2 linked regions of the Homo sapiens genome follow. The protein of the gene in region 1 purifies or fractionates together with the protein of each later gene. This does not show direct contact. Each region holds a gene or a part of one and is shown on either strand. Other genes may lie near its edges.

Evidence for each region.
Region 2: the proteins of KMT5A (region 1) and AEBP2 purify together in Homo sapiens (co-purification; one study listed by BioGRID). This does not show direct contact.

The regions. Positions count from the first base shown.
Region 1 is NC_000012.12:123,399,788-123,405,358, reverse strand, and holds part of KMT5A (N-lysine methyltransferase KMT5A), read right to left. Parts: intron 1,787-5,571; coding exon 1,727-1,786; intron 721-1,726; exon of another isoform or gene 608-720; intron 476-607; coding exon 285-475; intron 1-284. UniProt on the Homo sapiens protein: Protein-lysine N-methyltransferase that monomethylates both histones and non-histone proteins. Specifically monomethylates 'Lys-20' of histone H4 (H4K20me1).
Region 2 is NC_000012.12:19,518,887-19,524,193, forward strand, and holds the end of AEBP2 (zinc finger protein AEBP2), read left to right. Parts: 3' UTR 1-3,341; downstream 3,342-5,307. UniProt on the Homo sapiens protein: Acts as an accessory subunit for the core Polycomb repressive complex 2 (PRC2), which mediates histone H3K27 (H3K27me3) trimethylation on chromatin leading to transcriptional repression of the affected target gene.

The sequences.
Region 1 (5,571 bases):
CCTCTACTAAAAATACAGAAAAAAAAAATTAGCTGGGCTACTCTGGAGGCTGAGGGAGGAGAATTCTTTGAGCCTGAGAGGAGGTTGCAATGAGCCGAGATCACACCACTGCACTCCAGCCTGGGCAACAGAGCAAGACTCCATCTCAAAAAATAAAAAAAAAAAAGTCAACAACAACAAAACCAAAAGACTGGCCACCAAACAGAATCAGGAGTTCCTGGCCCTTTGGCCTCTCCTCACTGCCCAGAGGACAGAAAAGCCACTCTAAGCAACAGTGGACTCACCAGTAGGTTTTGCTCAGATACTGAAAATAGTACATGTAGCAGCCCGTGGAAGGGTCCTGTGCGTACAGAGCCTCCCGTTTCTTGGCGTCGGTGATCTCGATGAGGTCCCCGTGGTATTCCACCACAAAGTCACCCCGGGAGAACTGCTTGGTGGCAATCACACCCCTGCCTTTGCCATCGATGAGGTCAATCTGTCAGGTGATAAGAGAGGGTGTTGGTTCATAATAGCAATGGATGCCACTGTGCACAGCAGGTCTCCGGGGAGCTGGGGCTTACCCCAGTCTTTAACAGCTGTACTGAGCCATGTCATAAAATTCACTCACTTTACATGTACAGGCTGATGGGTTTTATGAAGTGTATACAGCTGTGCAACCGTCACTACAGGCCAGCTCTAGAACGTTCCCTCACTCCACAAACGTGGTTCCTTGGTGCTCATCTGCAAAGCAGTTACATCAGAGCTCGTGAGAGATCTGCTAGGTGGAGACTGCCCCATTTTGTAGATGAGGAAACTGAGGCTTAAAGAGGCACAACCACGTGTCTGAGGCCACACAGCTAGACAGTGACACAGCTCAAATCCACACACCTGGTTTCTCTGTCTAGGGGCTATGCGCTATGCCTTCCTAGGCAAACAGCAGGCCCAGTGTTCTGGGTCTCTACCTCATTCCACGATTTCTCTCCTGTGTCTCCTCACTCTATTCTACATGGAGTTGAATGGGGTTGCTGGAGGGGCCCAGGACTTAAGCCGGAATCCCCCTAGGTGGTGGGTGGAAGTGGAAGCTTTCTGAACCCGGAGCCCTAGTCTAGGCCCATCTGAACCCCACTGTAGAGAGTACTTCTCCTCTCGCCCAAACTGAGTGTGGTTGAAATACAGTAAGAGAAAAGCACATTTCTTGGGCATTGTCATTATCTAGGAAAACAGTTTAAAAATGTATTAGTTTCTCCTTTTAAAAGTTTCCCTGGGCATCAGCTACATATTGTATAATCCGATTTATATGAAGTGCCCAGAAGAGCAACTCCACTGAGACAGAAAGCAGCTGAGTGGCTGCCAGGGGCTGGGCAGGGGAGAGGTGGGGATGGTGGGCAGTGGTAAGTAATGGGTAAGGGTTTCCATTTGGGAGGATGAAAAAATTCTGAAATTAGACAGGGATAATGGTTGCATTGCATTGTGAATGTACAAAAAGCCACTGAATTGTTTAACCACAATTTCTAAGAAAAGCTTCCCCTGGATAACATTTATATACAAAGCCCATTTATGTTTCCTTCATAAGACATTTCCTTAACAACTTTTGGTATTTGGCTCTTTGACAACCTAATAGAGTCTGCCTGGTCACCATGGCCATTAGAGGGTGAAAGCCACATGGTGGCCACTCTCAGCCACGGGACCAGGGAAGGTGAGCTCTTCCAGCTTTAGCTATGATGCAGCAAGCACAGCAGCCCCTTACCTTCATTCCTTCTTCCTTCCCACTTTCAATCAATTCATCTATTCTTTTCCTTTCTTCAGACTGGGCAGAGAGAAAGAAAAACAGCATCAGTATCTTCTCCTAGGCCCATCGTGCGTAGCTTGATGGTCTTGAGCCCTGATTGCCCAGGCCATGCCCACCGGGCCACAATCGGCCTCATTTGGCATCACTGGGGATGATGGGTCCCCAGTGATGGCAAAGCCCCCAAGTATCCCTCCTTTTCTCATCACCCATCTGTTGTGGAAGATCTGTCACCTGGGGTTCAACTGGATCAGGAGGGAAACAGTGGGGACCCAAGAACAGAATGGGGCTCGTAGATATGTTCTGTTGCCCATGCAGCACGTTAAAAAATGTCCAACTTGCCCACACCTGAAAATCAGGCCTCTGACTTCACAGAAAATCAGGTACAGTGGGCCAGGCGCGGTGGCTCACGCCTGTAATCGCAACACTTCGGGAGGCCGAGGCGGGCGGATCGTAAGGTCACGAGTTCGAGACCAGCCTGGCAAATAGGTAAAACCCTGTCTCTATTAAAGATACAAAAATTAGCCAGGTGTGGTAGGAGCCTGTAGTCCCAGCTACTCGGGAGGCTGAGGCAGGAGAATCGCTTGAACCTGGGAGGTGGAGGTTGCAGTGAGCCAAGATTGTGCTACTGCACTCCAGCCTGGGCGACACAGCAAGACTCCACCTTAAAAAGAAAAAAGAAAATCGGGTACAGCAGATCAGAGGCTGTGCCCTTTGGATGGGACACACGCAGTCCACATGGCTCTGGTCTGATGGCTCATACTTCTGTTTGGGATCGCTGAGATTCACCTGTATGGAGGCCACCACGATGGATGAGAAGAGGGCCTCCAATCCCGAGGGTCAATACAGACCTGAACAGAGAACTGGGAGGGGGCACCCCTGGATCCACCTCTCCTCTAAGGCCACCCCTCCTGCACCTACCTCCATCCCTAACCCTGGGTTCTACTGCTCTGCCACTGCACAGATACTACAGAGCAAAAGGGAACCAAATGAAGACAGATCGGAAGCTCCAAACCAGTGTGGCTCACCCCAAACCAGCATGTCTTGACGGCATAGACTTTCACCAAACCAGATGGCACGTGTCAGGAGCCTGACACCAACTGCTGAGCTCAGCCCATTCCCCCTACACAGAGGCCCAAACCAGCTTGCAGCTTTTCCAGGCACTCAATCCACACCTGCAATGTGCCAGGCGCTGCAGTCTGTGCTGGGAACAATGGTGAATGAGTAACCTCAAGGACAGTCCCAAATCCTGCCACCTCCTCTCCATCTCCATTCCCACTGCGGCCCTGCAGCCCAGCCACGGCCCCGGCCCCGCTCCGGCCCCCTTGCTAGTCACCAGGCTTTCACTCTGACCCCAGGGAACACTCAGTTCTCCACAAGGTAGCCAGAGGGGTCTTTTAAAATGTAAATGAGGCCAGGGGCAGTGGCTCTCTCCTGTAATCCCAACACTTCAGGAAAGCCAGGAGGAAGGATCGCTTAAGGACAGGAGTTAGAGACCAGCCTAAGCAACAGATCCAGACCCTGTCCCTACAAAAAATAAATAAGCTAGGTGTGGTGGCGTACACCTTTGGTCCCAGCTACTCTAGAGGCTGAGGAAGGAGGAGGATTGCTGGAGCCCAGGAGGTTGAGGCTGCAGTGAGTCATGACTGTGACACTGCACTCCTGCCTGGGCAACAGAGTGAGACCCTGTCTTAAAAAAAAACAGAAAACATGACCAGGCATGGTGGCTCACGTCTGTCATCCCAGCACTTTGGGAGGCTGAGGTGGGTGGATCACTTGAGGTTACGAGTTTGAGACCAGCCTGGCCAACATGGCGAAACCCCGTCTCTACTAAAAACACAAAAATTAGCTGGGCGTGGTGGCACACACCTGTAATCCCGGCTACTCAGGAGGCTGAGGCAGGAGAATCGCTTGAACCCAGGAGGTGGAGTTTGCAGTAGGCCAAGATCGCACCACTGCACTCCAGCCTGGGAGACAGAGCAAGACTCCATCTCAAAAAGAAACAAAAAACAAAAAAAAACCTTCCCATAAACTTATTTAATAGTAATATACCTAACAAAACCTCACATATCAATATTAACCTTAAACATAAATGGACTAAAATGTTCCACTTAAAAGATATGAAAGATAAGGGTCAAGAAGGTTAAAAAAAAAAGAAAGATATACACCTGTTATCCCAGCACTTTGGGAGGCCGAGGCGGGCGGATCACGAAGTCAGGAGATCGAGACCATCCTGGCTAACATGGTGAAACCCCATCTCTACTAAAAATACAAAAAATTAGCCGGGCATGGTGGTGGGCACCTGTAGTCCCAGCTACTCGGGAGGCTGAGGCAGGAGAATGGTGTGAGCCCGGGAGGCGGAGCTTGCAGTGAGCCAAGATCGCGCCACTGCACTCCAGCCTTGGCAACAGAGCAAGACTCCATCTCAAAAAAAAAAAAAAAAAAAAAAGAAAGATATATATTGGTGGAATAGATTTAAAAAAAACAACAACAAAACTTGGTCAGGTACAGTGGCTCATGCCTGTAATCCCAGCAGTTTGGGAGGCCAAGGCAGGTGGATCACCTGAGGTCAGGAGTTCGAGACCAGCCTGGCCAACATGACGAAACCCTGTCTCTACTAAAAATACAAAAATCAGCCGGGCATAGTGGTGCACACTTGTAATCCAAGCTACTTGGGAGTCTCAGGCCAGGAGGCGGAGGTTAGTAAGCCATAATCATGCCACTGTACTCCAGCCTGGGCAACAGAGTGAGACCTTGTCTCAAAACAAAAAACAAAAAACAAAAAAAAAACTTCAACCAACAGTAATATACCAATGTTGGTTGTTACTTAGCTGTGACAAATTCACCAGAGTAACTTAAGTGAGAGAAGATGGGTAAGGAGTCTGGGGAACTCTCTGTATTATCTTTGCAACTTTTCTATAAAATTAAAATTATTGGCCAGGCGCGGTGGCTCACATCTGTAATCCTAGCACTTTGGGAGGCCAAGGTGGGCGGATCACAAGGTCAGGAGTTTGAGGCCAGCCTGACCAACATGGTGAAACTCTGTCTCTACTAAAAACACAAAAATTAGCTGGGCGTGGTGGCAAGCGCCTATAATCCCAGCTACTTGGGAGGTTGAGGCAGGAGAATTGCTTGAACCTGGGAGGTGGAGGTTGCAGTGAGCCGAGATCGCACACCTGCACTCCAGCGCGGGCTACAGAGTGAGACTCTGTCTCAAAAAAAAAAAAATTGCAAAATAAAAACATTTTAAAAACTTTTTGGCTGGGCACGGTGGCTCACGCCTGTAATCCCAGCACTTTGGGAGGCCGAGGCGGGCGGATCACAAGGTCAGGAGATCGAGACCATCCTGGCTAACACGGTGAAACCCCGTCTCTACTAAAAACACCAAAAATTAGCCGGGCGTGGTGGCAGGCGCCTGTAGTCCCAGCTACTTGGGAGGCCTTTTTAATTATTTTTTAAGATGGGGTCTCACGGCCGGGCTCAGTGGCTCACGCCTGTAATCCCAGCACTTTGGGAGGCCGAGGCAAGTGGATCATGAGGTCAGGCATTTTGAGACCAGCCTGGCCAACGCAGTGAAACCCTGTCTCTACTAAAAATACAAAATCAGCTGGGCATGGTGGTGGGCGCCTGTAATCCCAGGTACTCAGGAGACTGAGGCAGGAGAATCACTTGAACCCGGGAGGTGGAGGCTGCAGTGAGCCAAGATCGCGCCATTGCACTCCAGCCTAGGTGACAGTGTGAGACTCTGTCTCGAAAAAAACAAAACAACAAAAAACCCACAAAAGATGGGGTCTCACAATGTTGCC
Region 2 (5,307 bases), about 100 Mb from region 1:
AAAAACCTTTCAAATTATTTGAATAATCTTCATATTTTCATTTAACCTATATGACTCTAATTTTTTTTCTGAGGAAATCATTTGGTTTTTGAGTTGTTTTTTCTTAATGTAAGAAAAATTGTATTTTTTTTACAAGTATCTTCAAACTGAATCTTTTATGCACCAAAGTTGGTCTTGAAAAGGAAAATAAAATCACTTTCTTGCTTGGTAAGCAAGAAGCCATATCGATTTTTTTTAACTTACAGAAATGGAAATATGTGTAACTTGTTAGTATTGTATTAAACAAATGTTGCATAGAGATAATAGAACATTGCTTGTAAATAATTCAGCAGATTTGTAATATATTTTTATATTTTGAAATGTACTGTAGATGTTTTCTAGAGGCATGAAAGTTAAATGTATATATTATGGTAGAAATAATATTGAAGGATATTGTACTTCACTAGTGCTGCCAGAGGAATTGTTAATAAAAGCACCTTCTTTAACAATAAATGTCTTTCACAGACTTAAGGGACTATGTACTACTGTTAATATCTCTAAGAACAAAACACATTGAACATCCTTCCAGAAAGTCTTTGAGGGAGGACCTATACCCATAATAGAATTATGGCACTCATTTCTGACAGTGATCAAGAAATCAGTTATTTCCTTACTGTTGGAAGGACATTGTAAAGTATGTGGTTATATGCAGTGAAACTGCAGAAAATACTCCTGGTTGAGGAGTTTTCACTTTACTACAGTGATATAAAAACCAGCAGTTTTTACACTAAATTTTTTAAAGAAATATTAGACAAAAATATAGAATTAAAACCTTTGGTTCCAAAATGGGAAAGGTTCCACGATACATAAATCATTTCTCATTTGCTTTAAAAAATTTAAAAGTGTAAAAATTATGAGAGACTTTATTCGTTAACAATGGGGGTAAAGAGCTATATACATGAAAATGAGTCTTATAAAATTAAGTGAAGTGCAAATAAAAGCACTGCTACTATAAGACATTCTGGAATGGTTGTTTAATAAGGGTATTATCCATTTGATCTATAGCAATGTGATTTTATTTTTAAAAAGAAAAGCAGTGTGTTTTCTTTTTTTGTTGTTTTCTTTTGCTTAAGCACTTCATCAATTGCTTTATTCTGTATCTGCGAAGTAATCTGCAATCTCTTTTGTTCTTTTTAAAATTTGATTTGTTATAAAATTGCCAAATAGAAGTGTTTCAGATACATAGTTTGTACCTGTATTTTTATTTTATTGCCTCATGTTCTTGTAAGTCATTCTTAATTGACCAATGATTGTAGACCTTGCTTGAGTATTTTTTCTAATAAAACAAAGCAAATCACATTTAGCTTCAAATTGTAACAATTCAATTGAATTTTAAAATGACACCTGAAAAGATACATCTGATATTTTCTATATAGAGCACAGTAAATAAGTTTTTTCATTGTGTAGAAATACTTAGATGTCAAAACCAGATTTCGTGATCCTTGATTAACTTCTGAGTACTCAATCAATCATAATCCTTTTGCTGCTTATCTGATGTTGGTTTGATACTGTTAACACACCAAAAAGAATATGGAATTGAAATGAGCTAGCTTTATAACTTGTATGTATACATATATACACATAACATCCAATTATGACTGGGTAATAAGTGTGAAAATTTTAATTTGTGGTTTTCATTTATTAATGTCTGCCCATCTGTATTGTTGCTCCTACCTTCAAATATGACACCTGAAATAATAAGTCTGTTGTCCAGAATTTATGTATTGTTCAGCATCAAGCAAACTACAGCTCACAAGCATACCCATTTATATGTTGTCTATGCCTGCTTTCTCCTGCAGTGGCAGAATTGAGTGGTGAGACCTTAGGTCCTGCAAGCCCCCAATTTTTACTACAGGTTGGCAATCCCTAATCCAAAAATCTGACATAAAAAATGCTCCAAAGTTCAAAACTTTCTGAGTGCTGACATCATGCTGCAAGTGGAAAATTCCACGCCTGACCTCATGTGACTGGTCATAGTCAAAACAATTAAGACTTTGTTTCATGCACAAAATTATTAAAACTGTTGTATAAAATTACCTTCAGTCTATGTGTATAAGGTGTTTGTGAGATATAAATGAACTTTATGTTTAGTCTTGGATCGCATTTCTGAGTCTCATTATGTATATGCAGATACTCAAAAATCTGAAAAAAATCAAAAATCTGAAATACTTCTGGTCCCAAGCATTTCGGATAAGGGATACTCAGCCTGTCTCTGGTCCTTTAAGAAAAAGTTTTCGATTCCTTTGTCTAGTTGACAAAAAGTTTGGAAACATAAACTTAGACCACACAACTTGCATTTTAATATGACAATGTTGATCTTGGTAATAAGCCAGTACATTAAATTTTAGTGAAAGCTGTTTCATGTATTTTACAGTAAATACTGCCATATTAGGTACCTACAACAAATGGTGGTTTTTGGAAACTTTTACGGTGGGTTTTTAAAGTTATTAATAGTCCATCATTTCATCATTTGTGTTTCTGTATTTATTTTGCTAAGAACTAAATAAGATTTTGTACATCAGATTGTGTTTGAACCGTAAGGCACATCTGCTTTATCTAAAAGAATCTTAAGGTGGAAATAGTGTAAAATTTAAAATTTTTTATATTTCTAATAAACTTTTTATATATAAATGTTACCTAAAGTGGACACATGTTACTTCTGAATTTCACATGAAAGGAAATTAAAGATGGACAATAATTATCTCTCAATATTTTAAGATTTGTTTTACTAATTGAAAACAGTATGTCAGTAAATCTTTGGCCTTAGTGCTTTTTTCCCCCTTTTACACATTAATAAAATGTTTTAAATATGGTAATACTCTTAAAACGGTAGAATTTGCCACAGTTGTTTAAAGCATTTTTATTTTTTCTTTGAATTCTTAATTCATGGTGAACAGATGTTGGGTTCTTAAAATATAAAAATGAGAAAATATGTATTAAAAATACTTGATAGAGGGTTTTCTCTTTAATCACAACTTAAAAAAAGAAACCTTTAATACCTCTGCATAAGTTCTCTGAAAGAACTTAAATTCTTAGTTTATATGAAAACTGATATGTATGTCTGTGTAACAAAGCCTGTTGGGTACAGGTCTACAAGGAGATACTTTGTTTCTAAAAAAGGAGTTAAATCGTGTCACCTGAATTTTTTTTTTTTGAGATAAGTGGACATTTTGGGGATTTTGGTTAAAACATATTTCTCTATTCTAAAAATTACAGAATATGTATTCATAAAAGGGAAGAAATTGTTAGAAAATTTCCTGTGTACGTAGTTTGTTTTTAAATTAAAGAATCTTGTGACCTGGTGTAGGACATTTTGCATTTGTAACACTGCAGTTTTAATATATTTGCTGTTTTTTTTAAAATTAGAATATGTTTAAAATTTAATGGTTATGAGGCTCTGTAGCCTTAAAATGTTTTATAGTAGTAAAATGTATTATTTTCATCTTAAAAAAAACTAAATATTTACATTGCATAATTTATTTATTGAATCAAGTTTACGTGGTCTAACACATGGTTCTGTTAATCTGAAAATTGAAAAGGATTTGTAAGCAGGTTAGAGCAGGAATTGCAACCCAGATTTTTTTTTTTCTAGGTCAGAATTCTTTTCACTATACCAAACTGCTGCTCACAGTGTGAGAACATGAATGTACATTGTGATACCACTATAAAGTTGTGTCCAGTGTTTCTGCCACAGCCAGTCTAGCATGATCATTCATGGCACAAAATAGTCTGTAAAATTTGTTAAATGAGTATTATAGGTGAGTAATTTTTACAGTAAAATACTTTGGAGAATTAACAGTGATAAAACAGTAGTAGGGTTGAAGTGACCTGGCTTAAGCCACATTCTGTGATAGTGTCAGGTACCTTTTCATAAGAACCTTATATACGGATATAGTGGTTCATGCTTGTAATCCCAACTACTTGGGAGGGTAAGAAGGGAGGATTGCTTGAGGCCAAGAGTTCCAGGCTACAGTGAGCTATGATTGGACCACTGCATTCCAGTCTGGGTGACACAGCGAGACCCCACCTCTTTATTTTTCGCTACGGAGTCTTGCTCTCTTGCTGAGGCTGAAGTGCAGTGGTGTGATCTCAGCTCACTGCACCCTCTGCTTCCGGCTTCAAGTGGTTCTTGTGGCTCAGCCTCCCACGTAGCTGGGACTACAGGTGCGTGCCACCATGCCCAGCTAATTTTTGTATTTTTTAGTAGGGACGGGGTTTTGCCATGTTGGCCAGCCTGGGCTTGAAATCCTTACCGCAGGTGATTCTCCCACCTCTGCCTCCCAAAGTGCTGGCATTACAGGCATGAGCCACTGTGCCTGGCCCCCGCCTCTTTAAACAACAACAAAAGTTCTAATAAAAGGAACTGTGCTTCAGTTTGTTTAGACATTCTTAGTGTAAAGGGTTATTGATGTTATGTTTTTACATATTGGATGTAATATTTTGGCTTACTTGATTTTATTTAAAAATGTTCCTTTTTGTCCTGTTTTATGATGTAAATAACTTTTTTTTTTTTTTTTTTTTTTGAGACAGATTCTTACTCTGTCGCCCAGGCTGTAGTGCAGTGGCGGGATTGTAGCTCGCTGCAGCTTCAAAACGCCTTGGGCTCAAGTGACCCTGTCGCGTTGGCCTCCCGAGTAGCTAGGCCTCCAGGCATGCACCACCACGCTGGCTTTTTTAATATATTGCCCAGGCTGGTCTTCAACTCATGGTATTACAGGTGTGAGCCGAGCCACTGCACCTGGCCCAACATTTTTTTTTTAAAAAACACTATTTTGAAGGAGCTATGCAGTATTTGGTTTCCTGTTTTTTGAGATGGAATCTCTCTCTCTTGCTCAGGCTGGGGTGCAATGGCACAATCGCTGCTCACTGCAGCTGCTGCCTCCCGGGTTCAAGCGATTGTCTTGCCTCAGCCTCCTGAGTAGCTGGGATTACAGACACACACCACCACGCCCGGCTAATTTTTGTATTTTTAGTAGAGACTGTTTCACCATGTTGGCCAGGCTGGTCTGGAACTCCTGACCTTGTGATCCATCCACCTCAGCCTCCCAAAGTGCTGGGATTACAGGCATGAGCCACCATGCCTGGCCAGTTTCTTTCTCCCTTCCTCCATCTCTCCCTCCCTCCCTCCCTTCCCTCCCTCCCTCCCTCCCTCCCTCGTTCCGTCTTTCTCTCTCTCCTTCCTTCCTTTTTCTTTCTCTCTTTCTTCCTTTTTCTCTCTCTTTCTCTCTCTCTTCTCTCTCTCTTTTTTTTTTTTTAAACAGAGTTTCA